Homo sapiens: one gene and its partner. Each later gene encodes a partner of the first gene's protein in a complex. Each region holds a gene or a part of one and is shown on either strand. Other genes may lie near its edges.

Region 1 (15,519 bases):
AACATGAGCAAGTTACGAAGTAGAGGTTATTATTTGTGCATTTTAAAGATTTTATCAGGCAGAAACCTAGTTCTGCTCCTAGAATGTCATTTTGGCCTTGAATTATTTTATAATTTGTCCATCAAATGATGCGTCCGTGTGTGTGTATGTATGTGTGTGTTTTCATGCTGCATATATATGCAAACATGCAGAAAATGCCTCACTTTTGACTTTCTAACTTGGTAATATTTTGAGATATGCTTCATAGAACAGGGCCACTTCTGACTTCAGTCTTCTTCCATGGAGTGATTTCACTAGGGACACCTGTAATTCCTTCTGAAAAAATATTTGTTTCTAGTGGCCTCCATCATATTTAAATATATTTTACTGTTGTATATCTTAGCATTCTATCTGTAGAAAACCCAGTAAGATTCACGTCAATTAGAAATAATGCTAGGTGCCCCAATATATCACATCTAGTGGTTGGTTTTCTACCAAACTAAAATTATTAGCCAAATCGTATGAATTATATCTTCTATTTATTGATTGTTCACCATATCCCAGTGCATTATACGGTCTTATTTAATTTTTCATGACAGCCCAGTGCCAGTTGGTACTATTATTAATCCCATTTTATAGATGGGGACTGTGAGGCTTAGAGGCAAAGTGCATGTTTACACAGCTAGTAATTCGTGAGCAGGGCCAGGATTTGAACTCAGGTCTGTGTGAGTTCCCACACCCAAGTCGTCCTGGTAAATAAACAAATCCTATGATCTCACTCCCTTTACATGAACTCTCTTGCCCACACTGAAGGGTTTTACAGTGAATAATAAGATAAGTGGACCTGGAAAAAGTTTATATTTTATTTTTTAATTGATAAGCCACATGAATTGTCCCTACATGCTCAGTAGGTAATTGTTTATTTTCAAATATCTTTCAGATGCTTTTTGGATAAGCTCTAGCCCGGTGCTTCTCAAATTTTAGTATAAAAATGAATCACTGGGGATCTTCATAAAATGCAGATTCTTATTCAGTCGGTCTGGGGAAGGATTTGAGATTCTACATTTATAGATAGCTCCCAGGGGATGGTGGCAATCCTGGTGTGGGGACTACACTTGGAGTAGCAAGGCTCTAGCTCACTACATCCTAGCCTTTTCCCTATCCTTGTGATATTCTCACTCAAATGTGGAGGTTTTTCAGATCATCCTTCTGGGCTGTAGTAAACATGTTTGCATTGCTCTATTTTCTCAGATCCTAAAATAAATTAGGGTGGGATTAATGAAAATTAGGCAATAAGGCTAAAGAATGGGGGAAGGTAAGAATATCCGTCTGCAAACCTTTCCTTCTTCTTGTACTCTGCTCTAAAAACCACCTGCCTTATCTTTTCTATTTTCTTTGTTTTAATTTTTCGGAAAGAGTGTGACTGTATGTGCATGTTTGTGTGTGTGTGCATGTGTGTGTATTTGCACATGCATTTGGGGGGCTGATTCTGAGACTGAGTATACTAAACCAGAGCCATAGTCACTGGATTCTGCTAGCTTCCATTCCCCAAAACTACTATGGTGCAGAACAGACTGGGATTTCTAGATGCCTTGCTGTTGGTGGTGTGAGCCAGATCAGACACATAAATGTGAGCAGCTAAATTTTTGTCATGTTTAATTCTGCCTTCCATCTGAATACGCTAGCTATAGACACATATAATGTTTTCTTAGCTAGCAAGATAGGATTGTGTGTGTGAGTGTGTGTGTGTTAGGGGGAGGTGGTGGTCAAGAAGGTAAGTCACAAAGATATGACAGCAGCATATAATATAAACACGTATACATACATATGGAATGGAAGTAGAGGGCTGTGATCTTGGTAAACTTGACTTTAGTTACCTCTCGATTTCTTGGGAAGATCTCCACAGAACTTCAGAAAATGTATTTCGTATCAGCAAACAGTACTGGGTTGTGGTTTTGCCACTGTTGTTAGCTAGTAGTCTGTTTTAGGCAGGTCATTTCTACTCTCTAGACTTCAATTTCTCTATAGGTGAAATGAGAGGATTGACCCCTCCAAGATCCCCGCTTGTTTCTTATCGTTATTTTTTCTTTCCTTTTGCTAAGGCAAAAACCTGGGGCAATTGCATTGGCCACCACCATCCAAGGGCCAACTCCAGAATTGGTGACAGAAAACCAAACCTAAGAAACTTGCAAAGTTCCCTTCACCCAGCAAATTGCAATTTTTCTTAGCCCCTATCAGCTTTTATAATTTCTTTAAATCATCTGTGCTCACTCAGTTGAGCATGATGTACATGTTTGTTTATAAGACCACAGTTGAGTCATTCAGGAATCATTCCTTGCTGGCAGTATGGCTCTGCTGGTCTCACTGGACAAAGTTTGAGGGGCCCATCAACAGAAGAAAAGCTTCGTGAGTTTTAGAAAGGATGACACTGTGGATATGTCAGCTACTAGGCTCTGGACATGATGGCTGGCCTTAGCTTATCCCTCATCTGTGGGATGAGGAATAACTTCTGCCTAGAATGAGGCTTTATTTCTGTCTATAGGCTGCAAACTTTGTCATACCTTTCCCTGCAAACCTGGCAAATGACTGGGCCAGATTAGGCCAGTGGCACCTTGTGGCACAGAGTACTTTGGGGAGAGAGATTCTGCGCCTTATATTCTTCATCAGTTAGCAGGAGGCATCTGAACAGCTTAGTATACTAAGGTGAAAACAGGAACCTTTGGCAGAAGTAAAGCAGGCAGAAATGCTTCAATCTACCACCTTCAGTGATGGAGCCATGGCAAAAAATAAATTAGAATATTCGAAAACAGGCTACAGGAAAGCATCATGACACATTTGAAATATCCATTCAATAACTAAGCACCTGAATGGCTTGCAGATTGGAATTTAATATTGTAAGGAGAGAAATGAGACAGCAACACTGAGAATGTACTCCAAGGTTCCCAATTCCCTGGTACTATGGAATTCTATCATTGTTTACACAGTGTTTGCAAGTCAAATACAGGCAATTTTAAGATGCTTCACATATGAGTTGATTTCTGGATTAATTCCATTCCCAGTCAAAGCAAACACCTGGATAGTTTTCTTTCTGTTTGTTTCAAAACATCTTCGGTTCTCTCATATTCCTCTCATCTTCCTCCCTTCTGCATCTCTAATTTCCTGGCCTAGTCTTCTCTAAGTACTGTGGTTCTGCGTGCCATTCCGGTTTTAGTTGTTAGCTATAGAAAGAACAGAATCTTAGGATTATAGCTCTTGTGGCTGGGAAGGATGGCAGATATCTGGTTCAGGTCTCCATGTTGAGATGTACACTGAAGCCAGGTGAATTAGTATCAGTGAAGCCGGGGGCTACATTGGTTCTGAATCCCTGAACCTGCTCACATGCTTATCCCCTGGGTAACCATCAGGACTTACCTCAACAGCCAGATACTCACATCACCAAGAACAGAGCAAAACCTACACTGTAGGCTTCATTCGTGCTGATATTTTGAGTTTTTCCCCAATTATGATGCTGCCAGTTCTTTCCTACCTGTCTGCAACCCGGTCTTTAGTATATCTATTTGAAAGTGTAATTTTAACCTAAGAAAATACTTACTATGGTTGCTTTAAAAAGTAACAGAATGGGCACCTTTTCAGATCCTACTTGAGTAATCCTCATTCTGCTCTCTCTCAGCAGTGAACATTAGAAAGAATTGCCTGATGCAACATAAACAGTTTCACTTAATGCAGAATCCGTTTCTCTTATTTGCTGAGTTGGAAAGAGGCAATTCATTGCATTTTGGTAACATAGTAATAAATAGAAAGTTTAACAGACGAACCTGGGTGCTTTGGAAGCACAAATTCACCTCCTGCTCCCCTCTGTTACAAAAGCAGAGCCAAGATTGTATGGGGTTGATTGAGGTCCTTGAAAAACTACATACACACACACACACACACACACACACACACACACACACACACACAGATTTTCTCTCTCTCCCTATGTATATTGTGAAAGTTTATGAAAACAGCATCTTCCAGGGACCAAAATGTGGATTTTAGGTGACATTCAATTCTTCCTTCGACCTCACAGAGAGAGCTTCAGAGACTCCTTGACCCTGTGGGTTTCTTTTATCCCAGACTATATATTTGCTTTGAAACGAACTTCGTACTATGTAAATATATTAACATGCCTTTTGATTTAGAATAAGCAGATTTTAAAGACATGATGAAAGGTACCATGTGACATCATTTATATCTCAGTTTTTAAAGAGTTTATGGGAAAGGAGACATAATATAAATCATCAATAAAACATCAAAAAACCTATGACACCAACAATAGACAATTATGAATGCTGATATATAAATCTGTCATTCTTGTTAAATGCCATGAAGATAAATATATGGCAATAGAAAAGTGGGTCTGGGTGTGCCATGTCAATGTTGTAATCATTTCACATTTGAAGCCAAGGGTTAACATGCACAATCTCTAAAAAGAGCATTATCAATTAGTCTATGTCTCTCCTACTCTTATAATAAACTCGGGTAAAGTTCAGAGGTTCTATCTTTCAGGCTGGTTTCCCCGCTTCAGGCTTTTCCTGAGGGAGTAATAACCTTGCTAAACACTTAACCATCACCAGGTACATGACTGCGATCCAAAGAGCCCAGGTTGTAATAGGGAAAAAGCCCTTCTAGTCTCATTCTAAGAGACCATGGAGAAAGATCAGCATCTGTGAATTCAGCTCAGTACCTGCATATGTGGGACATGATCATGACCATTTGTCCGAGTCGATGTGTGTCTAGGGAGGGAGGGAGGTGTCCACTTTGAAGCAGAGATCTGACTGATGCCCCTCCATTTGCATTTCTTGGTTCCTTTAAGGAAGACAGGCAAACAAATCTGGCCATTTCTTAAGTTTGAAGGATACAAGACAAAGAAGGTAAATGGGGACCCTGGTTCCTGAACCTTCATGATCCGGCTCCTGGCTCTCTATTTCTGAAGGTGGCTTTTGACGAAGGGCAGGTATCCTTGGTCCGAGGGCCACACTAATCGATTTTAAGGAGGCCTGGGAGCAGGTTCCCCACGGATCTTAAAATCTACCCAAGAATGGAGCAAATCATTGTCCAGGGATAGGACAAAGCTGTGGTTCAGGAAAATATTCCCAGTGAAAGGATGTTTTTGGTCATCGCAGGCAGCACCTTGTCCTATCAACCCTGGAGCTTCTCCCCATTGCATTTCCTCTTCCAAAACAATCTGTTGCTGGCCTCCCTCTGCTCCCTACCACCCTGAGCCCACAGCCAGCCAGTCAATGCTTCTCCGCCTACAGCAGCCCAGCATCTTCATTCAACCCGCACTTCGCTGCCCCTTGCCCCTCAGCAGCACTCAGGCAGTGAAATGGACCGCACCGGCCGCCTGTAGACTTACCCTGAGCCAAGTGGTTTTTTCGGATAAAATCTGTGTCGTCTGGATGTCCACCGGCCAGGATGCGTGGTGCGGCGCCTTGCCGGACTCCTCTTTTGCGGCGCGAAACAGCAGCCGACTGGGACAGCCCGGGGCCTCTAGGCTGATGGGTGGGTGGGCGGATGAGCACAGGGAAAGGGGCGGGGTGTAAAGACGAGCGCAAGTACTGGCTCCTACCTTGGCTTCCCCTTTGGATGCTCAGTTATTGCCAAACTTGCCTGTAACAGATCGGCCCTCCTCACCTTTCACCTTCGCCAGTGCCCTGAAACTCTTTGCTCTACCAATGTCCCTACCCTGTTCTCCCAGCTCTCTAACCCAACCTGAGCCCCTTCAAGCGCACCCACTCCCTTCACGCAGCCAGTCACACACAATAAGAGCTAGGGAAGAAACTGACACGGGGAAACTGACAGGGGTAGCTGACACTGTAGTGTGAAGGAGAGGGAGAAGGAGGGAGGAAGGAAGGGATGGAGAGAGAGGGGAGAGAGAGAGAAAAAAAGAGAGAGAGCCGCATTCACACTCTTACACGCACACTCAAGCTCCAGCTGTTAGGTAGCGGCTGGCGGGAGCGCTGGCTACCCCTCCAAAACCCTTTTCTACACTAGAGGTTTCTGTCCCCTTCTGCTGCCGTTTCTGGAATATGCTATACAGAGAAGGGGAGAGAAAAGCAAAGAGGGGTGGGGAGGGGAAAATCAAGGAGGCACGCTCCCTTTATCCTCCCCACCCCTGTCTCCAAAAATGTCCAACCCTGAGCTCTTCCTTTTCCCTTCTTTCTGCGCCCGGCTTCCCTCTGCTCCTGTTCTTTATTCCTCCCTTTGGGGTGGCTGCGAGCTGCGGACAACCCGTCGTGGTTGTGATGTGGGGTGTGTGTGTGTGTGTGTGTGTGTGAGAGAGAGAGAGAGAGAGAGAGAGAGAGAGAGAGAAAGAGAGAGAGAGAGAGAGAGAGAGATTGAGACAACCGTGGTAGGCAAAAGCACCCCTCACCTCCCCCAGCCCCCGGGCCGAAGCCACTCTCAATCTCCTGGCGGCGGGGCGGGGCGGGGGAGGCGGGGAGGCGAGAGGGAAAGAGGGAGGACGGGGCAGGCGGCAGGGGCAGCAGCTCCTGCCTTCTTTGCAGCTCCGCGGCCAGGGGTGGAAGGAAGCCGCAGCCGCAGCCCCAAGTCAACCCCCGCTGCCCCGTCCCACCGTCTCATCTCTCCCCCCTCGGTACGGAATTTTCTGTCTCGTTTGTTTGCTTCCCCAGACCTCCCCCTCCCCTGGGTGGTGGCAGAGACGGGAGGGGAGGTGGGAGGCTAAGCGCGGGTGCGGGTAGAGGGGACAGGAGTCCCTCGGAGCATATGGCTAGCAGAGTCTCTCTTTGCCCCTTGGCCTGAATATCCCCTGCTTTGGGCAGTGACCTTTGCCCACCCCCGTCAGCCTGGGCTCTGGGCCGGTGGTGGCGAGGCTGCTCCGGCGACCATAGGTCATTCAGGAGGAAGGGGAGTTGAACCTGGGGGAGTAAGGGCGGCGGGCGGCTGGTAGGACAGGGAGACAGCGGAGCGCTGAGTCGCCAGGGACTGACCTGGGGTCCTATGGGGCAGGCTTGGATCCCTGATAGATCTAGATTAATCTAGTTGGAGCTACCTAATTCTCCCATCCGTGCCCCTCTCACCCATAGGGTCGATCTCCCAAGATCCAGCCTAGATTGATACAGGGAGGGAAAGTGATATTGTAGGATGGGGGCGGGGGGCTAGGTTGCTTAGTGGTATCTGTTGTGGAGGGAGAGGGGCGGTGTCACCGGACACTTGGGCCACTCTTTGATCTTTACGCCTTCCTTTCACATGAAGCACCTCTCCACTTCTTTCACCTTATAGCCTGGCGCTCAGAATGTCCACCCTCTTGAGCCCAACTGGAAGGGGCTAAATAGCCCCACCCCCACCACAAGCCTGAGACTTCTACCTGCAACCTGCAGGCGCATAGGTCCACTAGCTGGCAGCATTTCATGGCCTGGCCGCACAGCCCCAAATATTGGCTTTGTCTTTTATCTCCCTTCCTAGCGCTCTCAGGAAAGGGGCATGTGAGTCTCTGCCTTTCTGGACGCCGGGCTGGTACCTGAAAACCTTTCCCTACCCATTCTCAGAACAATCCCTAGCTCTGAGAAAACTCCACTGTACTTCCTGTTGCTCTTTAACCCCCTCTGCACGCCCTGGGAGCCTAAGTGTAAGCTCCCGAAAATGCCAGAATCATCTCCCTTGCCTAAATGGCCGAGTGTTTTCATTGCGGAGCCTGTGAAGCTGGTAGTAGCTATGTTTAGTGGAAGCCCTAAGCACTCTCCTCCTAGCCTACCTTGGAAAAGTCGCTCGGGGCACCAAGCAAGACAAATTTTCCCCTTGTCGTTAGTCCTCCTAGTCCCGAGGCAGTCCAATATTCTGGAGAGTATTTAGCTTTTGTATGGGAGCAAGGTATTGGAGAAAAGAAAATTATTACCCTGGGGGATGAAGAGTTTGTGTCTGGGGGGAAGGGAGTTGGGGAGGAAGAAGTGAGGGTGGAGCTTCCACCTCTTAACAACTTAAATACTTCAGGAAGTGTTTCTAAAGATTGGCCAAGAGGGTCGCTGAAAAAAAAAAATCACTTGATTCTTTGCCTTTCATTCAAAGGCAGTTTTACTGTGAACCAGCAAACTAATATACAGTCTCCCAAACAAGGGAGGTCTATGTTGTGATTAAGCCGTCTTCCCTTTGGCATGAGGGTGAGTAGAATATGTGACCGTGGATAAAACTTTGGGGGCATTTCCCTTTTTTTAGCCAAACTGCAGTCCAGCTGAGACTTCCACTCCAAGCCCAGATGCAACCAGAAGCAGTGCTCAGGGAGAGCAAAAGCCTTATTCTTGTGAGCTGTTTCCTTCAAAGGCCCTATATCCAATGCACTTGTCTTTAACATATGAGGACTGTGTGTGCTTCTGAAATTTGGAGCTTTCCCAGTGGACTGTGGATAAGGTTAAAATTTCTTTCTCTGCTCCTGCCCTATCCTGTTTCTGCCCTATCCTTCTAACCTCTTCAGATCAAGGATATATAAAGAAAAATCCTTTCAAAAGTTAAAAGCACCATACAAATGCCAGGCATTACTATACGAATTCCAAAACAAACTTAGCAGAGTATCTCCTAGTGCAATTAGAAAGCTGACTTAGGCAGGGACCCAAGCTTTGTCTAGGTTGCTTGTCAGCCTTGGGGCTGGGTGGCTCATCTTCTCTGTCAATAGGGACATATTCTGGTTTTCCACTTGGTGGCTGAGTGTGTATGTCTCCCAGGGTAGTTTGCACCTAGAGGCTACATCTGCAAAAGTGGCTCAAAGCCAAAAATGGAAGCCACTATCTGACTAATTTAAGCCCAGAACTACCTAGCTTCTAGACTAGGTTTACTTACATGGCCTGGCCTATTCAAATACCATGACAGGTATGACTGTTAAAATGTAATTGAGACATACTCTTTTCTCCTCTCTTCTTACAGCCTTGACCATAGTGGTAAATGGTATATGTAGACCAGAGTTTAATGTAACATCGTAGGTGAAGAGAAACTGTTATGAGGAATCCAGAGAGTGGGGTTTTCCCAGTCATTAAGCAGGGTTTCTCAACCTCGATGCTATTGATATTTTAGGCCAGATGATTCCTTTTGTTGGGGGGCTGCCCTGTGCATTGTAGAATGTTTAGCAGCATCCTTGGCCTCTGTCTGTTAGATTCCAGTAGGAACCCACACCCCATTTGTGACAACCAAAAATGCGTCCAGGCATGGCCAAATGTCCACTGGGGAGCAAAATTATCCCCTCACCATATAGAATGAGTGCCATTTAAGGTAATGTCACATTTCAAAGACCATATTTTAACCTTAATTCTACCCACATGGCATGTCCAGACTTTGCATTGAACAGAGTCTCAGAAAATAATGAATATTTTGTGAGGAAACGACATAAAAAGGAACCCTCACAAATTAGCTAAGTTTTGACAAATGGTGGAATTCATTGTTATCAACAATGCCATCTTCTGGTTACCATCAAATTCTTGTCAAGCACACACTATGAGTAGGGTATTGATTATAGCAAAGATCTGTAAGACATAATCCCAGCCTTCAGTATGCTAAGAAACTATTGACCTTTCTTTCCCCAAGGGGAAAGGGTTACTGATTTTCATAGATAACCAATTTCTGGATTGAATCCAACCTGGCTTTTTCCCTCTTCTATTTCCTATTTGTCCCCAAACAGTGGCTTATTGTTTGAGGTTCTGCCTTATAGAGATTGCATTTTGTTTTGCTAATTAGCATAGTCCTACAACAATTTTTTGTGACTTCTCAGCGTGTGGCATTTGTGTCATAACACTGTATCCAGCATAAAAATGACTACAACATCACAAAGGCTGTAACAAATTGAGCAATTTGAAAGCAGGTTTTTGTTTTCAAGGAAAGTTTCTAACTACTTGCATGCTAGAGAAATACTCAACAATGGCAAAAGCAAAAGAAATGGAATGTAAAAAGAGGTGATTCTTAAAATACTGTGGAGTGTTGAAAAAATATCTCAGTGTGATTATGGGTTTTAACACTCAGCACTATCTCTACCTCAGGAAGTCAAACAACACTAATGCAAGTTGTAGGATCTTGATCAGGAATTCAGCAAAGGAAAATGCAGGAGAAAGCATGGAATATCTGTTCAAATCAGTTGAGTAAGCTCCTGCCTTAGAAAATAAGTTTCCGGTGAGCCAGGCAGGACTGCATCAGTGTTACTTGCTTTGGATAATTCTTAGCCCAATACCACGTATATATATAGCAACATGTCACTTATAAAGACTAATGCAGGAACCAACAATTAGCACATTCAAACTTTACACATTCATACATTATGATGCTATTGCCAAGACTAATTATTTATTTAAATAAAAGTTTTGCCTGAATTGGGACGACGAATGACTGTAATTGAAAAATATGTTTCATTTTTCAAGAGAACATTTAAACTGTTATATCAGAATGGGATCCCTGTAATCAAGGGATAAAGCCTTACATTAATTAATGATTAATCTTAATAAAAGATGTGTAAACAGAGCTTCACTTCATGGATTAGCTAAGGACTTTGCTGTCCTCACCATTAATAGCAATGCAAATGGGGCCAGCTCTGAGCAAATTTGTAAAGTGTAATTGCAGAATCATAGGACATTGCAGAATATTGGACCATTGAGAAGCACCTTGCCTGAGGTTAGAGGATAGTGACAGAGAAGGCTCCAATTGTGTCTTGCTGGTCTGTGACTGACTCTGTGGGACCTCAGGAAGAGTAGGTTTAGTCTTTACTTTGCCTGCCCCCTCCCCAGCTTATTAAAAACTATCCCTCATGGAATGATATAATCTGTCCTAATCACTATACTAATGTGTTCCCTCTCCCAGGAGTAGATTGGTCTTCAGCTTTTTTTTTTTTTTTTTTCCAATTGTGGGGAAAAGGGCTCTATCTCTTTAATGAAAAGAGTTCAAGCATGAGGGAACATGTATGTCCTTGGGATGAGGACTTCCTGAAGCTCCTAAAAATCACCCCAACTGCAGATCATGTTTTATAAAATCTATGGAGGCTGGGAGTAGGGCCAAGAAATTTCAGCATTTCTCTCCGGAAAGTTTGTCATTGTGAAGGAGTAGTTGGTGAGCCATGCTTTATTCTTGATCAAAGACACAAGTCCTTATGGACAGAGTAATGAGAGGCGAGCTATGGGAGGTTCCTACAGAGTAGGTGGTGGTAAAGGGTGTAGGCTTTGGAGTCAGACCTGGGTTTGAATTCCAGATTCATGTTTCTTAGCTATGGAAATTAGGTTACATGGACTTTGGTTTGCTTATCTGTAAGCTGGGGACAATGACTCACAGTGTCGTTTAGTGGATTTAATTGGATAATGCATAAGCCTAGCACAGAGCCTAATATATAGCAGTAGCTCACTAACTGCTAATTTCCTTTCTTCTCCCTTTCTGCCTTTTTGTATTGAAGTGACTCATAACATAAAATTAATCATCTTAAACTATACAATTTAGTGACATTCAGTATATTCACAATGTTGTGCAACCTTCACCTCTATCTAGTTCCAAAACATTTTCTTTTTTTTTTTTGCCTTTTTTTTCCTTTTTGTGGAGAACAGGGCCTCGCTATATTGTCCAGGCACGTCTCAAACTCCTGGGCTCAAGCTATCCTCCCACCTCTGCCTCCCTAAGAACTGGGATTATAGGCATGAGACACCGCGCCTGGCTCCAAAACATTTTCATCATACCAAAAGAAGATCCTGTATCCCTGAATCAATCACTCCCCCATTTCCGCCCCCCTCCAGCTGTTGACAACTAATTTGCTTTGTGTTTCTATGGATTCAGCTATTCTGGATATCTCATAAAAAAATGGAGTCATACAATGTCTACCCTTTTGGGTCTGGCTTCTTTTTTACTTAATATAATGTTTTGAAGGTCCATCTGTGTTGTAGCATATAATCAGTACTTAATTTCTTTTTGCAACCTACTGATGTTCCATTGTATAGATATAATATATTTCACTTAGTTCATTCATCAGATGTTGGACATTTCGCTTGTTTCCACCTTTTCTATTATGAATAATGCTGCTACAAACATTAGTGTACAAGTATTCGTTTTAATACATGTTCTCAAATCTTTTGGAGACCTACCTAAGAGAGGAATTGCTGGATTATGTGGTAATTCTATATTTAACTATTTGAGGAACCACCAAATTGTTTTCCATAGTGGTTGTACCATTTTACATTTCTATCAATAATGTACAAGGGTTCCAGTTTCTCCACATCCTCACCAACACTGGTTATTTTCCATTTTGTTGATTACAGCCATCCTAGCATGTGTGAAGTGGTATCTCATTGCGGATTTGGTTTGCATTTCCTCAGTGACAAAAGTGATGATGAACATCTTTTCACATGCTTATGCACCTATCATATATCTTTTTTGGAGAAATGTCTGTTCAAGTCCTTTGCCCACTTTTGAAACTGGGTTGACTGTCCTTTTGTTGTTGAGTTATAAATGTTCTTTAAATGTTCCATAAACTAGTCCCTTATCCAATATATCTAAATATTGCAAATATTTTATCTCATTCTCTAGGTTGTCTTTTTATTTTTATGATAGTGTCCTCTGATGTACAAAAGTATTAAAGCTTATTGAAGCCCAATTTATCTGTTTTTCTTTTTTTTATTTTTCTTTTTTTATTATTATTATACTTTAAGTTTTAAGGTACATGTGCACAATGTGCAGGTTAGTTACATATGTATACATGTGCCATGCTGCGGTGCTGCACCCATTAACTCGTAATTTAGCATTAGGTATATCTCCTAATGCTATCCCTCCCCCCTGGAATCTGTTTTTCTTTTGTTACTTATGCTTTCAGTGTTATATTTAAGAAACCATAGCACAATCTAAGGTCATAAAGATTTACTCTTGTGTTTTCTTTTAAGTTTTATGGTTTTAGCTCTTATATTTAGGTCTTTAAACCACTTCGAGTTAATTTTTGTTTATGGTGTGAGATGGGGTCTAACTTCATTCTTTGGTGTGTGAATATCTAGTTGTCCCAGTATCACTTGTTGAAGAGACCATTCTTTCCTGATCGAATGATACTGGCACCTTGTAAAAAATCAATTGGCCATAGACATATGGGCTTATTTTTGAACCTTCAATTCTATTCTACTGTTCTATAGATCCACCTTTATGCCATACCACACCGTTTTTATTACTATTATCTTTGAATTAAGTTTTGAAAATGGGAAGTGTGAGTCCTCCAACATTGGTCTTCTTTTTCAAGACTGTTAAGATTGTTTTGGCTGTTCAGGGTTCCTTAAATCCAAATGCAGATCAGCATTTCCATTTCTTCAAAAAAATCCTTTAGGCTTTCAATAGTGAGTACATTGAATCTGTTGATAGTTTTGGGAAATATTTCCATCTCAACAATGTTGTATTCTAATCCATGACACAATGATGTCTTTCCATTTATTTAGTTCTTCCTTAATTACTTTCAGCAGTGTTTTGTAGTTTTCAGTGTGGAAGTCTTGCACCTTCTTGATTAAATTTATTCCCAAATATCTTATTCTTTTTGATACTATTGATTACTAAATTGTTTTCTGAAATTCATTTTTTGATTTTCCATTACTAGTTTACAGAAACAAATGATCGTGTACTCTGCAACTTTGCCAAATTTTTTCATTAGTTCTAATAGTTGTTTTATGGATTCTTTAGGATTTCTTATATATAAGACCATATATATATATAAGATCTTATATATAAGATCTGTGAATAGAGGTAGTTTTACTTCTTCCTAATTTAGATGCCATTTATTATTTCTTGTCTAATTGCTCTTGATAGAACTTCCAGTACCATGTTAAATAGGAGGAAAAATGTGGATAACCTTGTCTTGTTCCTGATCTTAGGGGAAAAGATTTAAATTTTTCACTACTGACTATGATGTTAACTGTGGGTTTTTAATAAACATCCTTTATCAGGTTGAAGGAGTTGCTTTCGGTTCATACTTTGTTGAGTGGTTTAATCATAAAAGGGTGTTGAGTTTTGTCAGATCTTTTTTTTCCTCATTGAGATGTTCATATGGTTTTTTCCTTCATTCTATTAATTTGTATATCACATTGATATTAATAGATTTTTAAAGATGTTTAATCAACCATACATTCCTGGGATTAATCCCACTTAGTCATGGTGTATAATCTTTTTAATGTGTGACTAGATTTGGTTTACTAGTATTTTTTTGGGGATTTTTGTACCTGTATAAATAAGTAATATTGGTCTGTAGTTTTGTTTCTTGTGCTATCTTGGTCTGGCTTTGGTATCAGAGTAATGGTGGCCTTGTAGGAGGAGTTAGGAAGTATCCTCTCCTATTAAAATTTTTTTAGAAGATTTAGACAAGAATTGCTGTTAATTATTCTTTAAATATCTGATAGAATTCACCAATGAAGTTATTTGGTTCTGGGCTTCTTAAGGGGGCAAGGGGTGGACTGATCAGTCATTCAATCACCTTACTTGTTATAGATATTTTCAGAATTTCTATTTCTTCTTGTGTCAATTTTAATAGTTTGTGTGTTTTTAGTAATTTTTCCATTTCATCAAGGTTATCTAATTTCTTGTTGTATAATTGTTCATTGTTTTCTCTTATGATTATTTTTATTTCTTTAATATTGGCAGTAATGTCCCCACTTTCATTTCTGATTTTATAATTTGAATCTTTCCTTCTTTTTCTGTCAGTCTAGCTAAATGTTCTTAATATTGTTAATCTTTTCAAAGAATTAACTTTTACTTTTGTTAATATTCTGTAATGTTTTTCTAATATCTGTTTTATTTATCTCTTGTCTCATAATTACTACTTTCTACCTACAGCTAGCTGTGGGTTTAATTTGTTCTATTACTAGTTCCTTAAATGTAAGTTAGGTTATTAATTTAGGTGTTCTTTTTAATGTATGCATGTATAATATAAATATCAGTTGGAATATTGCTTTCACTGTATCACATAAGTTTGGTAGATTGAATTTTCATCTTCATTCTTCTCAAAGTGTTTTTAAATTTTTCTTGTGATTTCTTCTTTGATACGTTTGTCGTTTAAGGGTTTGTTGTTTAATGTCCACATATTTGTGAAATTTTGTTTTTCTTCTGTTATTGATTTCTGTTTCTAGCTTTACTTCATCATGGTCAGATAGGATACTTTGTATTATTTCAGTCTTTGTAAATTGAGGACTTGTTTTGTGACCTAACATACAGTCTATTCTGGAGCATGTTCCACGTGCACTTAAAAATAATGTTTATTCTGCTGTTTTGGGGTGACATGTTCTATCTGTTACATCTAGTTGGCTTATAGCTTTCTCCGAGTCTTCTATTTTCTTAATGATTTTCTGTCTTCATCTATCTATTATTGAAAGTGGGGTATCGAAGTATCCAACTTTTATTGTAGAACTGCATATTTCTCCCTTTAATCCTTGCTTTGTATATTTGGGTTTTCTGTTGTTTGGTGCCTGTATGTTTATAATTGCTGTTTTCTTGATTAATTGACCCTTTTACCAATATATAACATCTTTCTTTGTCTCTTGTAATAATTTTTGACTTACAGTTAATTTTGTA
Region 2 (15,280 bases), on another chromosome or scaffold:
TAAAACAAACCAGTTATCACAGGAAAAATTTTACTGGGAGGCAAGTTAAATTTATTTTTGAATTTAAATTCCTCTAAAAGGACACAAACATTTGACGCTATTTGGAGAAACAAGAGATGTTTGGGCCCCCATTCAGTTAAAATATTCAAACAATGCTGATAAATATGTTAAGTTTAAACCAAGGAATACTGCCCAGAGAAATTTTACCCTGATTAAGAGATGGTAAACTAAAATGAAAGATACTTGTATTTGGCACACCTAGCAAAAAGGCTAATGACTTACTTGAAGTATAGGTCTTTGAAGGTGAAATGTGTTTCTACAATGCCTGTGGTCTTCACTCTCGTCCGAAGAACATCTTGCTGAGTTGGAATGTAGTTAGACTGGGATATTCTATCCAGATCATTTAGATAACTAAATAAAAGACACGTTTACTTTTACTTGGTGAAGCCAACCATGTGCATAGCAAATGAACAGACTAAATTAGTTCCTATTTTAAACCTGTTACTAGTTATTAAGTGGCAAAACAGAATCAGATCTTCAGTATCATAGAAATGATAAGCCAGGCATGGTGGCTCACACCTGTAATCCCAACACTCTGGGAGGCCAAGGCAGGAAGGTCGCTTGAGGCCAGGAGTTCAAGACCAGCCTGGGCAACATAAAGAAACCCGTCTTTACAAAATATTTTAAAAATTAGCTAAGCATGGTGGTGCATGCCTGTAGTCCTAGCTAATCCTCCTACCCTTGAGTGAAGCAGGAGGATCACTTGAACCCAAGAGGTCAAGGCTGCAGAGTGCCACTGTACACCAGCCTGAGTGACAGAGTGAGACCCCCGTCTCTTAAAAAAAGAAAGAAATAATAAGAAAAAATATGAATCCAACATAGGACAATTAAAGTATAGAGTCTATATATATTAACAAAAGTAGGTTTTTTTGTTTTGTTTTGTTTTGTTTTGTTTTTTTGAGACAGAGTCTTACTCTGTCACCCAGGCTGCAGTGCAGTGGTGCGAACTCGGCTCACTGCAACTTCCGCCTCCTGGGTTCAAATGATTCTCCTGCCTCAGCCTCCTGAACAGCTGGGATTACAGGTGCCCGCCACTACGCCCAGCTAATTTTTTGTATTTTTAGTAGAGATGGGGTTTCACCATGTTGGCCAGGCTGGTCTCAAACTCCTGACCTCAGGTGATTCGTCTGTCTCGGCCTCCCAAAGTGCTGGGATTACAGGCGTGAGCAACCGCGCCCGGACACAAAAGTAGGTTTAATTCTACAGAATTAAATTGTGAAGGCCAATTTAAAAAATTAAAACAATAGGAACAGGAAATGTTCTTATTAAAGAAAAATTCCTGAAATGTAATACTAAATCAACTGTGTACTGTATAATATCAAAACCAAACTATACCAAAAGTCCTCAGACAATTAAACTCAATAGGTCATGCGTGTTTAACCATTTGACAGGACATTAGAGAATGGTGTTTGATTAACTAAAATTGAGAGAACTATAGTGAGTAAGAATATTTTCCGTTTTCTTTCAGTAAACAGAAGAGCTGGGGAGGTCTGGGGTTTTTTTTTTTAATCTAAATCAAAAACAAATTGTAAATACCTCCAAAAAAATTAATTTGTTCAGGGAAATAATTAAAAGACTGCTTCAAAACTGTATTCTTTGCTGATTCCAGGCTAGAAAACTGATGAGCAGATGGCACCAATGTAAGTGAATCATTAATGATCTATAAAACCAAATACTATCACTAATGTAAAGAGGCAAGCTTAGATCAACAGTTATGAAAATCTCTATAAGCACATGTAGTTAGAGGATTCAGAGCTTTCTGAATGAAAGATGAAAAAAAGCAATTATAATCTACCTTTGATGACCACTGGTAGAATTATTTAAGCTATCAATACTTGCAACTAAGATGTTATTAAAAGGTAGGCAAGAATCCTGAAACGTTTCTAAAGCCAAGTTCTCATTGAAAGAATAAGCAAGTTTTCAAATACAGTCATGTGCTGCATAACAATGTTTTGGTCAACAACAGACTGTATAAATGTATGCTAGTGATCCTGTAAGATTATAATGGAGCTGAAACACTCCTAGCCCCAGTGACATCATAGCCATTGCATTACCCTTTTATATGTTTAGAGATGCTGAGATACACAAATACTTACCATTATGTTACAATTGCCTACAGTATTTAGTACAATAACATGCTGTACAGGTTCATAGCCTAGGAGCAACAGGCTATACCATATAGCTTAGGTGTGTAGTAGGCTATACCATCTAATTCTGTGTACGCATACTCTACAATGTTCACACAATGACAAATCACCTAATGATGCATTTTTCAGAAAGTATCCCTGTCCTTATGCACAGCCTGACTATATCATTTAATTTCTTCTTGTAACAATTTAAGCTAGAATCATGACGTGAAAAGTAGGAAAACAGTAATATTGGAGAAAAAACTTTAATGCTTAAACGTGCCCTCATCCAGTACAGAGAGAAATACAGATAACAAGTGCTCACCAGGCCCCGCAAAAGTACATTAAAAAAAAATACATTCCGGACCAGGCACGGTGGCTCACGCCTGTAATCCCAGCACTTTGGGAGGCAGAGGTGGGTGGATCACGAGGTCAGGAGATCGAGACCATCCTGGCTAACACGTTGAAACCCCGTCTCTACTAAAAATACAAATTAGCCGGGCATGGTGGCGGGCGCCTGTAGTCCCAGTTACTTGGGAGGCTGAGGCAGGAGAATGGTGTGAACCTGGGAGGTGGAGCTTGCAGTGAGCGGAGATGGAGCCACTGCACTCCAGTCTGGGCGACAGAGCGAGACTCCGTCTCAAAACAAAAAAAATACATTCTGAATCTAGGTTTCATAAATAAGTATATGTAAAAGAGGTAAAATAGGATAACATGTAATAGCTTAATATAAGTATTCATTACAAATTCTCTAAAACTATATTAACACTCAAGATAATATCCTTGACAAAAAGATACTTCAACTTCATTCCATGACTCAACCTTCTCTTTCTATACAAAGTCTACTACTGTGATCTGGCAAAAGGGTTACTAGTGAAGTCCATAGTGCGGCCCAGACACAGAGAGCTGGCTGCATAAAAAGGAATACCACTATTCTAATTTCCCTCTCTAGCTGGCTATCAGTGCCAAGCCCTTACACAGAGGGAACTTATGAGTTGGAACAGATTCAGAACCCAGCCACAACAGATGTCTCTCCTCCTTCACTTGCTTATAATAAAATGCCATGGAACTAATTTTGTGGTGCCAAGTCTCCCATTTACATTCCAAGAGGGAACTTTTTTCTCCAAATCATACAAATGACCAAGGGCTCTATAATCCTAAACTTAGACAATTTTTATAAAGTATCCTATAAACGTCTAAGAGTGTCTATTACTTAAACATTTCCTTAAGTGGGGACTAAAATTTCTGTAGTGTCACCAAGTTATTCTCTGTTATAGTTTCACAGAGAAAAATTACTTACTATGAAGCAGAATCATTGAGCTGATATTCCCTGGATCTGCTGAAGCAAGCTTGTACCCCACCATCTCGCCATAACCGTTTAATCACTCCTGCTAGTTCTGGAGTCATGACTCCTTCTTCAGCACTGCCAGCTAAAACAAATAATTGCCGGGCATCATCCTGAAGAAAGCAGTTAAGAAAGAGACAGATGACTCTCCATTTCTTTAAGACTTGATGACAGTCTCTTTAAAATATAGACACATTACATGTTATGTTAAAAGAGGTGTTGTTACAGAGACCTTTTCTGACAGGCCAGCATGACAGAATTTATAATTAAGTCTTTCCTTATTCTCATTTCACTACAGTTTTAAGTCCAGAACTGAGCTGAGGAATGATTTTACTTCCCCACCACTCCTCCACACACCACCATCCCCAGAAAAGATCATTTCTGGCCAGCCCACAAATCTCCATCCAGATTGCTAATAATTTTTGAGAGAAAAAAACTGGTTTATGAGACAGGATTATGTAAAACATTCCCGTTCTATTAAAGGAAGCCTACACTAAAAATAGAAATAAAAAGACTAGCACATAAGAGGTAAAGTCTAAACACCTCAAAGGGAGTAAAACATTAATCAAGTTTAAGAAAAAAGTATTCTCTTCTTTGCCTTCAGCCCAGACAGTAGAACAAGAAGAGGAGATGGAGGCACTTAAGGTCTAGAAGCCTAATGGGGGAAATAAATCCCTCAGGGAAAGATTCAAACAGTCCCTAGATTTCCCTAAAGGAATAAGGAATAATAATAATGTTCTGAGAGAGGGAAAGGAAGGGAGCAGGAGGAAAAGAAAGTAACCATAACTTCATGAGTCATAGCCATGGTTTTCTTTATTTCTTTTCTTTTTTTTTTTTTTTTTTTTTGAGACGGAGTTTCGCTCTTGTCACTCAGGCTGGAGTGCAATGATGTGATCTCGGCTCCTTGTAACCTCCGCCTCCTGGGTTCTAGCGATTCTCCTGCCTCAGCCTCCCAAGTAGCTGGGATTACAGGCATCTGCCACCATGCCCAGCTAATTTTTCTATTTTTAGTAGAGAGGGGTTTCGCCATGTTGGCCAGGCTGGTCTCGAACACCTGACCTCAGGTGATCCACTCGCCTCAGCCTCCCAAAGTGCTGGGATTACAGGCGTGAGCCACTGGGCCCAGACATAGCCATAGTTTTCTAGGTGGTTATAGTTTTTAAACATAAAATATGTGAGGGAGAGGACAGAAATGGATTATGAGATTTTTATTGTTTTCCTTTATTCTATCCATCCCTACTTGTTGGTTTAAAATTAAACACAGGTCTCACGGGATGATTTTCCCATCCACATCTAATATTTATCTACCTTGAGAGATTCCAAATAACTATAAAAATAAAAAATTTAAAAAGTATATAACGTGTAAAGAAAAAGTAAAGGAGAAAGGGGAGCAATCATTTGTATCTTAAGTAGTCATCAAGACAAATAAACTAACAAGCAAAAGTCATTTCAGACCACAGGTGAACTCACAACCTAAAACTCCAAAGACTTGTGAATTACCAGAACTTGTGCATCCACCTTAGCAAAACAAAACCATCCATGGTGCACTCAAATTATTTTTGCCAAACTCTGGGTCTCCAGCTCTAATGGTTTTTACCTAGTAATATTTCCTCCTTTATGATCCTTTCCTGTATTCTTTCTAGTAATATTTAGGCTCAACCCACTCTCATTTAGCTTCTGAGATCAGGCGCATTCAGGGTGGCATGGCGGTAGACTAGGCTCAACTCTAAGACACCTTAGCTGGTCGGGCATGGTGGCTCACACTTGTAATCCCAGCATTTTGGGAGGCCGAGGCGGGTGGATCACAAGGTCAAGAGATTGAGACCATCCTGGCCAACATGGTGAAACCCCATCTCCACTAAAAATACAAAAATTAGCTGGGCATGGTGGCGTGTGCCTGTAGTCCCAGCTACTCGGGAGTTTGAGGCAGGAGAATTGCTTGAACCCAGGAGGCGGAGGTTGCAGTGAGCTGAGATGGTGCCATTGCACTCTAGCCTGGGCGACAGAGCAAAACTCCATCTCAAAAAAAAAAAAAAAACAAAAAAAACACCTTAGCTAAGATCTATATGCCCCTCCCTTTCTTTTCAAAGATAAAATTTTAAACAAATGAATGAGAAAAGTTGAAATATTAGACAAATTGGCAAACATACTCAGCAGTGAGCATGTCCTTGTACATATGCAAGGTATGGTGCTTTATCTAACATGTGAAGTCTTCATAATCCCCTGGTTCTGAAATTTGACCTATACCCATGCACGTATTCAAATAACCTTATTAAGCACTACTTTAAAAAAAAAAAAAAACAGAAAAAAACCATGACTCTAATTTTAGAAACTTCAAAAGAGAGGGAATTATTACTACTTTTTTTGCTGTCCTGACTCTTTAAATATTCTTTTAGGAGCAAACACTTTTTTCTTATCACTTAATTTCTTCCACTGACCTGCTCTTGCTTCCCCACAATAAACCCTCTCTAAAGGTCTATAAAGAGGTGCCTCTTGGCTGGGCATGGTGGCTCACGCCTGTAATCCCAATACTTTGGGCAGCCAAGGCAGATGGATCACCTGAAGTCAGGAGTTCCAGACCAACCTGACCAACATGGAGAAACCCCCGTCTCTACTAAAAATACAAAAAAATTAGGCGGGCATGGTGGTGCATGCCTATAATCCCAGCTACTCGGGAGGCTGAGGCAGGAGAATCGCTTGAACCCAGGAGGCAGAGGTTGCGGTGAGCCAAGGTCACACCATTGCACTCCAGCCTGGGCAACAAGAGTGAAACTCTGTCTCAAAAAAAACAAAAAACAACAACAAAAAAAAAAACAGAAGAGGCCCCTCTTTACAATAAACTTCACACCTCCACACTTAAGCAGATGTGAAAAAGGAACCTATTCCACACTCAGCTCTATTTTTTTTCCATTCACACTCTCTAACCAACTATAAAAAACTAGAGTAGAAGCCGGGCACAGTGGCTCACACCTGTAATCCCAGCACTTGGGGAGGCCAAGGCAAGTGGATCACCTGAGGTCAGGAATTCAAGACCAACCTGGCCAACATGACGAAACCCCATCTCTACTAAAAATACAAAAATTAGTCAGCCGTGGTGGCAGGCGCCTGTAATCCCAGCTCCTTGGGAGGCTGAGGTAGGAGAATCACTTGAATCCAGGAGGCAGAGGTTGCAGTGAGCCAAAATCGTACCGTTACACTCCAGCCTGGGTGACAAGAGCAAAACTCCGCCTCAAAAAACAAACAAACAAAAATACTAGAAGACAATAAGAGAGGAGCTATAAACATAAAACCTTACACACAGAAGGAAAAATAAAAAGCAATGTTTAAAAATTATAATATAGGATTACAGACTAGGTTGTGTGGACACCAGAAAGCTGGATGATTTAGGAGGCCTGAGAGGGACTAATGATGTCAACTGCATCTGGTGACACAAGAGTATTAGGATACAAAGATTAATGACAATTGATTTGATAATGGAAAGAAATGGGGCCGGGAGCGGTGGCTCACGCCTATAATCCCAGCACTTTGGGAGGCCGAGGCGGGCGGATCACAAGGTCAGGAGTTCGAGACCAGCCTGGCCAACATGGTGAAACTCCATCTCTACTAAAAATACAAAAATTAGCTGGGCGTGGAGGTGAGCGCCTGTAATCTCAGATACTCAGGAGGCTGAGACAGGAGAATCGCTTGAACCTGGGAGGCAGAGGCTGCAGCCAGCCATTGCATTCCAGCCTGGGCGACAGGGCGAGAGTCCGTCTCCAAAAAAAAAAAAAAAAAAAAAAAAAGAAATGAAAGGGTAGGGAGATAAATAAAGGAAGACAGACGGCGGGGAATAAAATTAAAGAGGGAAAGAGAAAAGGGACAAACTAAAAGAATAAATAACTGAGACAGAGAAAAAACCAACAGAGAGAAGGAAGAGAATAAATACAGTACTACTGACCAGTTACCAGATACAACAAATACAACAGAGAAGTAGAGTTAGGTGATAGGGAGAAATGAGAAAAGGGAGGAAGAAAAAATAAGACCACAGATAGAGCTGGTATAAAGAAGAAAAAGAGGAAAAGAAGGAAACAAAAGCAGGGGGTGAGAGAAGGAATAGGAAAGGGTAAGACAAGGATAAAGGCTTTATTTTTGCTTGACTGCCAAACTTCCCTGCTCAGATGCATAGAAAAATAGTCTCTGTGATATATTTCACAAAAATATAAAAGTCACATTCACATATTTTCTTATTTTTTGATACAAGTCTCTCATTTCACAATCCCTAATCCAGCTCCTCTTCCTTTATGCCATTTCTAAGACACTTTCTAGTCTAACACTATCCAACTGTGACTACCCTTTCAGTATTTCCCCTCAACAATTTCCTATCTTTTTATCAAATATAAATTCGCATTTGATAAGTTGGGAGTGGCTTATGAGAGTTCCTAAGCAACTTCATAGACATATAGGTTTTGCCTTTCCAGGCAGACCTCCCAAATCATTTCCTTTTATTTCGCCATGGCACATAAGTATGACACTCTGAACACAGCCAGTGAGTCCCTTAGATGTAGGAAATAATTCTATAATTTCCCAGCCTTCTCTGGATTTTAGCTGATAATAATATCAAAGATCTCCTGCCTTCATATTGGCACCCTCCCCAATGGCATAAAACATCCTAATTACACATGCTCTAATTTTATAAACTAGATCTTCAGGGTCCACTAAGTATTATTATAATAATACAACTTTTTAAATAGCTGACATGTGCAAGGCATTAAAGAATTATACTAGGGCATGTTATACTCCAATTCTATAGCCTTAGGTTCCATGTAGTATACAGTATTCTTGAATATCTGACTTAGATATTCAAGAATTTGGACTTAGTGCTCATGTCCTTACAGAATTTATTCTGGGAGACTGATTTTGGCCTTTAATCTGTACACCTCAGAAAGCAGAGCTACATATCATGGCAACCTTTCTCTTAGATTATTTTAATGTACTATTATCTACTACTATAAAAGTCAACAGTGCTGTTAAAAAAAAAAAAAAAGCAATTGAATAGAACAGTTATCCCAGAAACCTACCGTGCACCCACAGAATCCCATTTCCTAGGCTCCTCTTGGGGTGGTTATATCTAACACCTGCTAAAGTAGATTGCTAACATTTCTCAAGTGAGCACAAAGTACTTTGCTACATTTTATCTTGTTGCTTAAATTCATTTCCCTAAAACATGAAGCAAAAATTTTGCTTAACTTAACTGTATCTGCTGAATAAGAGCAAGTGAAGAGGAAATGAGAAACACTTACTGCCCTGGCAGCTTCCCCAAAGTCAATCTTTAGCCGTCCCATGGCTCTTATGATTGCAATGATGGACTGTATAGTATTGCTGTAGACAACTACTTTATATTGTTTACATTCATCCTCTGAATAGCCATCCTCATGAATGATTCTTTAAAACAAAGAAAACCACAAGTCAATACCATGGACCTAAAATGAAAAGATACTATGGACTTTATATGCATTAGGAGAAATCCTAGTCTAACAAAACGCTACATTCCAACTTACTTCATCTGTTTCACAATGGTGCTTTTACCAGATTCTCCAGCACCTGTAAGAAAAGAAAACCAGACTTTGAATTTCTCGGTAATCAACATAAAAGTATAATATCAACATGAATGATAACTCTAGATTGATGAAAACCACGGGTCCTAGGGAAAATTTTGGTGAGGCTTTCATGTCTATCAAGAAAATGTATGGAGCTTCTCCACTACAGCATTTTGCTTTCTTTACATAACTCAGCAACCAAGTATAATTTATTGAAAGTGTCCTAGGGCTTGCTTGGTATCATTTGTGTAAAATAGGCATATCCAAGGACAGATGGCAACATAAACTTTTGGAGGAACTCATTCACTACATAAAACATGATATAAACACTGAACATGGGCAAAAATGAAATCATTATTTTTTGGTCTATTCATTTTTATTAATTCCTCTGTTGCTGCCTGCCTATACCACAGAAATGTTCTGAGAGCAATACTACCAGTCACAGGACTAAAGATGTTTCAAATAGAAGCAGAAAAGGCATTGTTCCTATCAATTTCTCACCATATGTCATCTCAAGACCACCCTGCCCTCCTTAGCCAGCTGGAATCACTTTAAACAAATGACCACAAATGTCAAGCTAGCCTTCTGACCTCCTTGACAAATCCACCTGCTAGATCTTCCCTAGTCAACTCATTTTCCTATCTTCCAAGATGCCTATATCACACCACCTCCTCTCTCTCAAATTTTATAAACCCCCTCCCAATTCTGACTCTCAACTGATGATCCTACCCTACTTTTCCATAAAAATTAAAGCAATCAGAAAAAACTACATTTTCCCACAACGACATCTACCAGTCTATCTGTACCTCCATTAATATTCTCTACCTTCATCAATGGATGAAAAGTCTCTGCCAATGTTTTAAAATCAACTTCTCCCCTTATGCACCTTCATTTTACCTACTCAAGGTCATGGCTGCTGCAATTTCCCATGATATTTTCCACATCTCAAATATGATCAGTTTTTTCTTTCCACTGGGTCATTCTCATCAGCATGCAAACTTACTATACTATTTTCCATCTTTAAATCAACACACATACACACCCCTAACTTTCCTTGACCCCACACATTTTCTTCTAGCTACCACACCATTTTCTCTATCCCTCTTTGCAGCAAAACTCCTCTAATGTGCCATCTATACTCAGTGCCTCCAATTTCGTACATCCAATTCTGTCCTTCAGCTATGCTAATCAGGCTTTCATCCCCACCACTCTAATAAAACTACTTCTCAAGGTCTCCAAAAACTTCCATCTTGACAAACCCAGTTGGTCAATTCTTGGTGCTCATCTTAGCCTCTCAAGCAGAATTTGTCTAAGTTGAAATATTTTCTTCACTAGGCAGGCTTCTAGCCAACATACCCTTCAGGTTTGATTCCTACTTCACTCCTCAATCTCCTCTCTCCAGTTTCTGAATTATTATTATTATTATTATTTGAGATGGAGTCCCGCTCTGTAGCCCAGGCTGGAGTGCAATGGTACAATCTCGGCTCACCGCAACCTCCGCCTCCCAGGTTCAAGCAATTCTCCTGCCTCAGCCTCCTGAGTAGCTGAGATTACAGGCGCCTGCCACAACACCCAGCTGATTTTTGTATTTTTAGTAGAGACAGGGTTTTTCACCATATTAGCCAGGCTGGTCACAAACTCCTGACCTCAGGTGATCTGCCCGCCTCAGCCTCCTAAAGTGCTAGTATTACAGGCGAAAGCCACCGCACCCAACCCAGTTTCTGAATTCTAAAGGTTATATTGCTTCAGGGGTCCCTCCTTGGCCCTTTTCCCTATCTAAACTCATTCTCTAAGTTATCTAATCTCATGGTCTTTATTTTTTGGAGACAGACTCTTGCTCTGTCACCCAGGCTGGAGTGCAGTGGCGCAATCTTGGCTCACTGCAACATCTGCCTCCCAGGTTCAAGTGATTCTCCTGCCTCAGCCTCCTGAGTAGCTGGGACTACAGGCACACGCCACCACACCTGGCTAATTTTTGTATTTTTAGTAGAGACGGGGTTTCACCATGTTTGCCAGGCTGCTCTCGAACTCCTGGGCTCAAGCGATCCACCTGCCTCGGCCTCCCAAAATGCTGGGATTACAGAAGTGAGCAATCGCACCCGGCCCTAATCTCATGGCTTAAACACTATTCAAAAACTGATCCTAACAGTTAACATCTAGTGAGTACCCTCGGCCACACTGTTCTAATCACTTTGTTTGTAATAACTAATTTAATCCTCACAATAACCCTATGAGGTAGACATTATTACCCCCATTTTACAGATGAGATAAATGATGCAGACAGATGTCAAGTAACTTGCCTATAATTACACAGTTAGTAAGTGGCAGAACTGAAATTTGCATTCACAGTTTGGCTCCAAAGCTGGTGTATACTGTCTCTATACTAATGATTTCCAAATTTAGATCTCTAATCTTGGCTTCTAACCTTGGCTCCAGATTCATATATCTAAACCATCTACCTGATATTAGATTTCTAGTAGGTATTTAGATTTCACAAACCTAAAATGCTCAAAACTGAGATACTGATTCCCCAACTCACTCTCACCTCAAAACAAACCCTGCTCCTCCCTCAGTCTTCTCATTCCAGTAAATGGCACCAACATTCACCAGTTGCTCAAGCCAAAAATGTTAAATGACATGTGACTAACGTGCAGATAAGACAAGGATGCCAGTGCCAATCTGTATATTAAATATTAGTAAAGCTTAATTTTTTTAAATAAAGCAATATAAATAGTTAATATAATAGTTTTAACAGTTTGTTCCTGAACATTGGAAACCATAGGCCTAGATCACTGCAAAAGCTTCCTAAATAGTTCAGTGCTTCAGACCTTGCCTTTTCTAAAGCCAGTTTGCCAGTCAGTAGGTGGAATAAACTTTGTAAAATGTAAATTAGATCTTGTCACACGATCTTCAATTATACTCAAAATCCATGGGCATTATGGTGCAATATGCTCTGGCCCCTGCCTACCTCTTCACCCTCATCTCTTGTTACTCTCCACTTTGTCCTCACAGCTCTTGTCAGACCAGCATTCTTGCTTTTCCTCCAACATACCAAACCGGTTCTTACTGAGTTAGGTCCTGACTCTGTCTTTCCTGTCTTTGCGTTTACTGTTACCTGAAATAAGTTTTGCAAGATTTTCTTCCTCACAGGAACAGCCTTTTCTGACTAATCTATCTAAATAGCTCCCACCCCGTCACAGTCTCTCCCCTTATTCTGTGTTATATTTTTTCATAGCACTTACCACTTCTTCACATGACAGATTAGCTCATTTCTTATCTTCCCCACTAAAATATAAGCTCCATGAAGGCTTATTCATCCCTGCATTCCCAGGGCCTTAAACTGGTCATGACATAAATTATCTACTCAAATAAATATTACTAAACAATGAATAATATTTAGTAACCATGATTCTTTACTAAATATTTCTCAACTTTACTAACCAAAAGTTAATTAAAATCCAAATATAAAAATTCTAGACAACTACATTCTTACAGAATCAAAAGGTACATTTATATATGATCTTGTCTTATTACATAATCGATAATCAGGGGTAGTACTAAATAGTTAATACTCAAATAGCACATAGTGACTTTCTTAGGATGCTGTTATAAAAAGGTGAATCCTCTCATTCATATCTAAAAAATCCAATGATTCTACTCTGGGAAGAAAATACAAATGCATACCAGTTATATTTTAAATTGCTTAAAAGACAGAATTCCCAGATTATCCATAGTAACAAGAGCTACTAAATTAAGAAAAGTTGAGATTAATGAATTAATGTGTACCATTCTTTTATATATTGAAAACCACATTTCCATCATTCATGTGAGATTATCTTGAATGAAATAATAAATCCATTAATCTCAGAATCAATTTCTACCTATCTCATTAATCCTACCCTATGGATGCGCTGATTAAAAAAAAAAACAAAAAACCCTCTGTTGCCCTACCTCTCTCACATTTTTCCAAGGCTCCCTGAGAAAATGTCAGTTTGCCTTTCCCTTTATTATCACACTAATATCTTCTCCTGAGCTTCCAGTTCCATCTCAGGGGCACTATTTTTAAAACCATCAGTTTATCTAATAATTCTCCAAATTATTGAAACACTTTCTATAACCCTTTCTTATTAGGTCTGGGCTCTTCACTTTTACCTCAACTCTCTGTGCTCCATTGTTCTAGCAGTAAGCTCCCTTTTCATAACATCTCATTGTTGCGTTTTCCCCAAGCTGCTTCCTATGTTCCATCTCCCTACTCCACAACACATGTGGTGTTCAGAACTTCCTAATTTTATCTGCATCTTTTATCTATCTTTTTTCAAAAATGTATCACAAGTTTAAGGAGAGATTCAGTTGCCCATCTTCAATACACCAGGGAAGTAATAGTTGAAATACAAAGAATGGGAAGATGCAAAGGATACTGCAAAGACAGCAGCTATGGCTTCAAAAGGGAGGAACTGAAGAGGACTCTGTATGCAGAAGGGATGGAACTATGCAGGGGGTTAGGATACACAGGGGAGAAAAAGTTGGAAAGGTCCCAGAAACAGGAGGCAATAGGATCCGTTCAACACAGAAGCTTTATCCTTTAAAGGATATCCTATATAAGTAGGAGAAAAGGATGAGAGGTGAAGTCACGGAGATTTTTGAGAATAAAAGGAGGAAGGAAGCCATGTTAGTTTCATTCTCAATAAAAGAGGCAAGGCAATCTGCAGAGAATAAAGGGAGAGGATTAATTTAGAAAACTATCTGGGGACAGGGAATGGTTGGTTCACACCTATAATCCCATCACTCTGGGAGGCCAAGGCAGGAGGATCACTTGAGGCCATGAGTTCAAGACCAGCCTAGGCAACATAGGCAAACCTCATCTCTACCAAAAAAAAACAAACAACAAGAATAACACAAAAAATTAGCTGGGCCTGGTAGCACACACCTGTAATCCCAGCTACTTGGGAAAATCTCTTGAGCCCAGGAGTTCAAGGTTGCAGTGAGTTACAACTGTGCTACTGCACTCAAACCTGGGCACAGAGCAAGACCTTGTTCTGGCAAAAAGAAAAAGAAAATCATCTGTGTTTATCTACAGTTTGGATACATAATCATCAACACTGTTAGACCAAAAAAAAAATTCAACAATATGTACTCTAATGTAGAATCACTGTATTTACCTAAACATGGGGTTTTGTTTGTTTGTTTTTTGTTTTGAGACAGAGTCTTGCTCTGTCACCCAGGCTGGAGCGTAGTGGCGTAATCACAGCTCACTGTAGTCTCAATCTCCCAGGCTCAAGCAATCCTCCTCCCTCAGCCTCCTGAGTAGCTGGGAGTAGCTGGGACTACAGGGGCACACCACCATGCCTGGCTAATTTTTTTTTATTTTTAGTAGAGATGAAGTCTCACTATGTTGCCCAGGCTGGGCTCAAACTCCTGAGATCAAGCAATCCTCCCGCCTCACCTCCCAAAGTGCTGGTATTACAGGGGCGAGCCACTGCACCCAGACACATGTTCTTAATTGTATTTTTAAAAAGATCTCTGAGCAGGTACCAGAGCATATGCTCTCCACCCCTCAATAACATATATTACATTATGGGTATGCAAAGTGAGAGATGGTGATAATTTCTTTGCAAGATAATTTTTAAACAAGGCCCCAAGTGATTGGAATTTGGAACTGCTAAAACAAATAAACCATTATCACATATGAGCAAACTCATTCAGCTCACATACAGACTGATTTTAAAAATTAACCCTGACAGATGGCTAATTCTCAAAAAAAAAAAAAAACACTATCCCCTGAGTCCTTCTCTTTTTTCTCTTTCATTTGACTAAAGCCAGTCCAAAGAAAGTACATGAGTATACTATGTGAATTTCTATTTCTGTGCCTTCAAGCACAATGAATTTCCTCATCTGAATGGGGGTCAATAAAAAATGCTTAAAACAGTGCCTGGCACATAGTAAATGTTCCATAAATGTTAGCTAGCTATTATTTATGAATGCCATTTCCAATGTTGAGAATATCACCAAGTAACGTTAAGGCCTCGCAAAGTTTTATTTAGTAATAACAACTTGGATACTGATGTTGGTTCAAAATTCCAGTAAAAATGGTGTAACTATTTAGCAGTGGTTTCATAATAATAAAATCCTAGATAGAATCTGAATTCACACACTTAAACTGCAACTTATAACCT

The links.
Region 2: the proteins of TRPC5 (region 1) and GNAI3 are in contact, whole or in part, in a cryo-EM structure (PDB 8GVX), measured with the Homo sapiens proteins. Residues at the interface, in NP_036603.1 of Homo sapiens: Thr27, Glu32, Glu33, Glu56, Ile57, Tyr58, Tyr59, Asn60, Lys125, Pro128, Thr129, Leu130, Met131; in NP_006487.1 of Homo sapiens: Arg205, Arg208, Lys209, Trp211, Ile212, His213, Phe215, Glu216, Glu245, Leu249, Ser252, Asn256, Lys257, Trp258, Arg312.

What each region holds. Positions count from the first base shown.
Region 1 is NC_000023.11:112,076,502-112,092,020, forward strand, and holds the start of TRPC5 (short transient receptor potential channel 5), read right to left. Parts: upstream 6,276-15,519; 5' UTR 5,378-6,275; intron 1-5,377. UniProt on the Homo sapiens protein: Forms a receptor-activated non-selective calcium permeant cation channel. Mediates calcium-dependent phosphatidylserine externalization and apoptosis in neurons via its association with PLSCR1.
Region 2 is NC_000001.11:109,567,568-109,582,847, reverse strand, and holds part of GNAI3 (guanine nucleotide-binding protein G(i) subunit alpha-3), read right to left. Parts: intron 9,112-15,280; coding exon 9,069-9,111; intron 8,953-9,068; coding exon 8,811-8,952; intron 3,645-8,810; coding exon 3,487-3,644; intron 412-3,486; coding exon 283-411; intron 1-282. UniProt on the Homo sapiens protein: Heterotrimeric guanine nucleotide-binding proteins (G proteins) function as transducers downstream of G protein-coupled receptors (GPCRs) in numerous signaling cascades.